2 separate regions of the Homo sapiens genome follow, and region 1 is linked to region 2. Evidence: fine-mapped expression QTL. A gene starts in region 2. The other region holds a variant in brackets. All regions are shown on one strand. Distances are between the middles of the regions.

What was found. PIP is the estimated chance that this variant, and not a neighbour inherited with it, causes the effect.
Region 1: its variant is the best candidate, but not a certain one, in a credible set for the expression of TIFAB in whole blood (TOPMed, PIP 0.81).

The regions. Positions count from the first base shown.
Region 1 is chr5:135,430,556-135,433,478 of GRCh38, reverse strand. No RefSeq gene overlaps it. Among named protein-coding and RNA genes, the nearest start is that of DCANP1, 15 kb to the left of the region's middle. The variant G/A (reference allele first, on the strand shown) is at 1,183.
Region 2 is chr5:135,451,206-135,454,128 of GRCh38, reverse strand. It overlaps TIFAB (TIFA inhibitor), which reads left to right and starts at 1,778. Exons shown (of 2, transcript NM_001099221.2): 1 at 1,778-1,920. All of the region lies in intron 1 of LOC124901073 (a long non-coding RNA gene), which reads right to left.

The DNA of each region.
Region 1 (2,923 bases), 21 kb after region 2:
GACACAGGAGGCTTGCTTGAGGCCAGAAGTTCAAGACCCGCCTGGTTTTAAAAATTGCAACAACAAAAAAAATGCATAAAATAAATATAAAACATTGATCCTTATTGAAAAAATGTTTTTTACAATAGAAAATTGGAAACATGTCATTTATCCTACCATCCAGCTTAATTCTTATAATGTTTTATTATATTTCCTTCCCACCTCTTTCCATGTACTGTGTATGTATATTTGGTACTTTTAGTATTATTCTTATATGTAAAATTATAGATCTAACTTTTTTCTTTGTGTCATATTGTGAAGATTTTTGTACACATCTTTAATGACTTCTAAAAACTATCCTGATGAGTATACTATGCCACCACATGGACACATCATGCTTTAACTTAGTGGTTCTCAACCGGAGTGGATTTTGCCTCTCCCCAGAGGACATTTCACAATGTCTGGCTTGGGGAGAGGATACTACCAGTATCCAGCAGGTAGAGGCCAGGGAAGGTCTGTGTCTTGTTCACTTCCATTTCCCAGGGGGCTGGTCCAGACCTGGCACCTGGTCGGGGTTCAGTAAAAATCAGTAGGATGAAAGTGACCCTTCCTCTTTCCTCCCTTGCTTGTGAAGATGACCTGTACTTACATTTGAGTTTCTAGGCCAGGCTCTTTTCTGTCTTTTTCCCTGGATGGGACATATTAGAATAGTTTTTGAAAATGTGTCTAAGGGACTCAGGGTGAAAGTGCAAACCAATCTCAAAGAATACCTGAGTTGCCAGGCAGCAAGAAGACACTGGCACACATTCTCAAAGATGAGCCCAGAAGATATTTCATAATTGCCCAAGACAGTCTCATTACTTTAGTCTAGTAATTATTACTAGACATTATTATAGTCTAGTAATTTGCTTACTTTACAGGCAAGGAAAAATTTATTCAAAATATACAATATATTGTGCCGATTACTGGGAGTAGAATACTGGAAGAGAGATCATATACCACTGATGGAAGAAGTACAAACCTGACCCTGGCACTGGGAATATTAGGGAGAGAGAACCATCTCTCTCTCATCATTAAGGCACGACCATCTTCAACAAAACCAGAACCCAGAGTCACCTCCTGCCTCTGGCCTTTGCTGGACCCAGCAGAGGAGGCTGGCTGGAGAAATGCAGGGCGGAGAAGGAACCAGGACAGGGCTCTGAG[G/A]CCGCCCTAGAGATGGGTAGATGGCACTGCAGGGCCCCAGATCTCAGGGCCACCGGGTTGATTTTAGAGTCACTGCTAGTCCTTTGACCCCAAGACTGCCATAATCAGACTCAGCCTGGATAAACTAATGTGCCCATCCAGACTCTCAGACTCACTGGGGCTCAGTGAGCCCCTGGACCCTGCATGGAGTGGCATACCTTCCTCCTCGCAGTGTGGAAAGTGCTCTGCTTTCAGGACAAGCTCTGAAAAGCAGCATGAACTGTTTTGTTTTCTCGTTTTGTGCAAGAAAGCCAGTTGGCATACCCTATCTGTATTTCTAAAGTGGCCATGGATTACCTACATCAGAGGCACTTCGGATGCTTGTTAACAAGGTACATACTGGGGCCCCACACTGGACTTCCTGACTCAACCAATCTGGGAGCAAGTGCCAGGAATCAGAATCTCAATAAGCTCTTCAGGCAATACACACACACACACACACACACACACAATATACACATATACATACATATATACACACATATATATACACATATACATATATAAAACATAAAACATGTCATTTTAACCATTTTAAATATTCAAGTCAGTGTAATTACAATTCACATTGTTGCACGAACATCTTCACTGTTTTCAACATTTTGTGTGTGTGTGTGTGTGTGTGTGTGTGACGAAGTCTCACTCTGTTGCTCAGGCTGGAGTGGAGTGGCACGATCTAGGCTCACTGCAACTTCTGCCTCCCAGGTTCAAGTGATTCTCCTGCCTCACCCTCCCGCGTAGCTGGGATTACAGGTGCCCATCACCACGCCTGGCTAATTTTTGTATTTTTAGTAGAGACAGAGTTTCACCATGTTGTCCAGGCTGGTCTCGAACTCCTTACCTCAGGTGATCTGCCTGCCTCGGCCTGCCAAAATGTTGGGATTACAGGTGTGAGCCACCACGCTGGGCCGGTTTCCAGCATTATCACCCCAAACAGAAACCCTATCCCCATTAAATAATAATGTTTTCCCCTTCCCCCAGCCCTTGTAACCTCTAATCTACTTTCTGTCTCTGTGAATTTACCTAGCCTAGATATTCATCTAAATGGAGTCATACCATATGTGTCCTTTTGTCTCTGGCTTAGCTCACTCAGCATAATGTTTGCAAAGTTCATCCATGTTGTATCATGTAACAGAACTTCATTCTTTTTTATGGCTGAATAATATTTCATTGTATATATGCACGCTACATTTTGTTTATGCATTTATCCTTCTATGGACACTTGGGATGTTTCCACCCTTTGGCTATTATGGATAATGCTGCTATGAGCATTAGAGTTCAAATATCTACTTGAGTCCCCGCCTTCCTTTTTGTGTTTGTGTGTATACCTAGAAGTGAAATTGCGGGGTCATATAGTAACTCTATGTTTCACTTTTTGAGGAACTGCCATACTGTTTTCTATAGTAGCTGAAACATTTTCTATTTCTACCCACAATGCATGAGGGTTCCAGTTTCTTCACATCCTCACCAATGCCTGTTATTTTCCTTTTTTTTTTTTCTGCCTAATGTGCATAGCTTTGGGATGTGGGAGGAAACCCGAGTGCCCAGAGAAAACCCACGCAGGTATGTGGATAATGTGCCAACTGCACACAGACAGTGGCCCCAGGCCGGAATTGATTGTTTTTTTTTCTCATCAATCTTATAACGAAGCAACATTGGATGAATGGACATTATGGGAGGACTCACTGTATAGCCGTCTCAG
Region 2 (2,923 bases):
GATTCTTTATCTGGGCATGGAATTCTAGGTTGGCGGTTACTTTAGAGCAAAATATCTTCAACAAACCAGGAATAAATGAAAACATCCTCAATTTGAAAAAGAACATTTGCAAAAATCCTGCAGTTAACATCATACTTACTGATAAGAAACCAGAAATTTTCCCACTAAGATCAGGAGCAAGACAAGGACATTTCCTCTCACTATTCTTTTTCAACATCGTTTAACCAAAAAGTTTTAACCAATGAAGTAAGATTAAAAAGGAAAAAAAGGTATACATATTGGGAAGGAAGAAAAAAACTGTCTTTATTTGCAGATGACGTAATTGTCCATGTAGAAAATCCAAAGGAATTGACAAAAAAGCTCCTGGAACTAGTAAGTGATTAACGGACGATTGCAGGATACAAGATTAATACATAAAATCAATTACTTTCCTATATGCCAGCAATGAACAAGTGGAATTTGAAATAAAAAACACAATGCCATTTCCATTAATATTCAAAAAAGAAATATTTCTGTATAAATCTAACAAAACATATACAAGATCTATATGAGGAAACCCATGAAACTATGATGAAGGAAATCAAAGAACTGAACAAATAGAGAGATATCCCATGTCCATGAATAGGAAGATTCAATACTGTCAGGATGTCAGTTCTTCCCTCCTTTATTGATAGATTTGATGAAGTCTCGTCAAAATCCCAGCGAGTTATTTTGTGGCTATTAACAAACTGATTCTAACATTTATATAGACAGACAACTCAAAAGAGCCAAGACAAAATTGAAAGAGAAGAACAGAATTGAAGGACTGGCAGTACCCAACTTCAAGACTTACTACAGAGCTGCAGCAATCAAGACAGTAAGGTATTGGTGAAAAAATAGACAAATAGATCAATGATACAAAGTAGAGAGCCCAGAAATAAACCCACATGAATACAGTCAACCAATCTTTGACAAAGGAGTAAAGAGAAAACACTGAAGGAAAAAAAACATGGTCATTTCGGAAAATGGTGCTGAGACAACTGAACACCTATAAGCCAAAAAAAAAAAAAATCTAGACACAAACCTTACACATGTCAGAAAAATTAAAATGTACGTATAGAACTATAAAACTCCTAGGAGATAACGCAGGTGACTTGAACACACTGGTGGACTATGAAATGCTGGGCTACGTGAAGGGTTAGCACCTTCACATTCCAGGGCAGCCAGAGCCCGCAGTGCTGGACAAGCGACCATCTTCACCCCTTCCAAACTGCATGCAAATAGGCAGAGCTCGGGCGATGGGGAGTGGGCATGAGAGACCACCTTCTCACTGTTCTGCAGGAGAGATCATGTTCTATGAGTGGCCATTTACTGCCCTCTCCATCCTCCCCGTCCCCAGGCCCTGCCCTCTCCTGAGACCCTCAGGGAAGTGCCATGTTGCCTACAGTTTCCTTGGCCAACCTCTATCCAGCCAGAACGCTCTCCTCATTCTCCCACACTCAGGGGACTCTCCTGTCCCGTAGCCATCTGTCCCAAAAAGCTCTTCTTTTCTAACATGCCTGGGCTGCTTTGACCCCATCCTACTGGCAGGTGGAGAGGAACTTTGCAGATACCCTGGGTGCAGGTCCTAAGGTCCCTGGGGGTGGGGTAGGAGAGGCTGGCAGAACTGAAACCCAGGAAGGCAGGCCATCTGTCTCAGAAGGGGCCCCACGCTGGGGTTTCTCAAACTCTCAGCAGTGGAATTGCACTTCTGCAATGAAAAATTACACTTCTATTTTCTTTCCTAAAGGGAAAAAGGAAGAATGCAACAAAACTGAAGTATGTTCTGCCACGTTCCTGAACTGCAGCCATAGGAGCCCTCCCAGCCCTACCCAAACCAGCCTACTCCCTCTCAAGAGCTCACAGCTGCAGGACTAGAGCCAGATGTGCCCCGGCAATAAGGTAAGTTGAAGCCAGAGGGGCTTGAACCCATGGGGAGAAGGGAGGGCCTGGTGGGGCTGGGAGGAGGGCTCCCCTGAGACACACATTCTGGAGTGTCTTCCTCCTGCCCCGTCCCAAAGGCTGGATTTGTAGGGCTGGGTTTCTGTTTCCCCAGAACACCTGGGATCCAAAAGACACGGGACAGCCTGTCGTGGATGGGCTCCTCTTTAGTGGGAGATTTCTGTTAGCTCTGGTTGGAGCAGAGAGTAAGGCCACACAGCAACTGTGAATCTTTCTTCCTGAGGGATTCTTTCAGGGTCTCTGTGCCGTGATATTAGTTTCTGGGAGTGAACTCTTGAGTTTCCAGCCAGGCCTGACAGCATGGGTTGCCCAGCCCACCTGTCCTGGGCTCAGCCTGTAACGCATACCTCGAGAAAAGGCTTTCTGGCTGGGCGTGGTGGCTTACGCCTGTAATCCCAGCACTTTGGAAGGTCGGGGCGGGCGGATCACCTAAAGTCAGGAGTTCGAGACCAGCCTGGCCAACATGGCGAAACCCCGTCTCTACTGAAAATACAAAAATTAGCTGGGCATGGTGGCGGGCACCTGTAATCCCAGCTACTGGGGAGGCTGAGGCAGGAGAATCCCTTGAACCTGGAAGACGGAGGCTACCATGAGCCAAGATCATGCCGCTATACTCCAGCCTGGGTGACAGTGTGAGACTCCATCTCAGAAAAAAAAAAAAAAGAAAAAAAAGAAAGGCTTTCGGCAGACTATGGCCAGATGGGGTGTGGGTAGAGGCATATGTGTGTCTGTGCCTTAGGGGAAAGGGGGTGCCCTCAGGCCTCTGATAGTGAAAGGGTGCCCTCACTATCAGACTAAAAGGTCTCAGCCATTAACCTACTGCATCTAAAAGGCAGGAGGGGCAGCAGGTTCAAGACCTGGAGGGACATTGAGTTCAAGCCACCTGCAACAGGCTCGCTGTCCCACAGCCTTTGAGACATGATCCCATTTGTGGTCTCTCTGG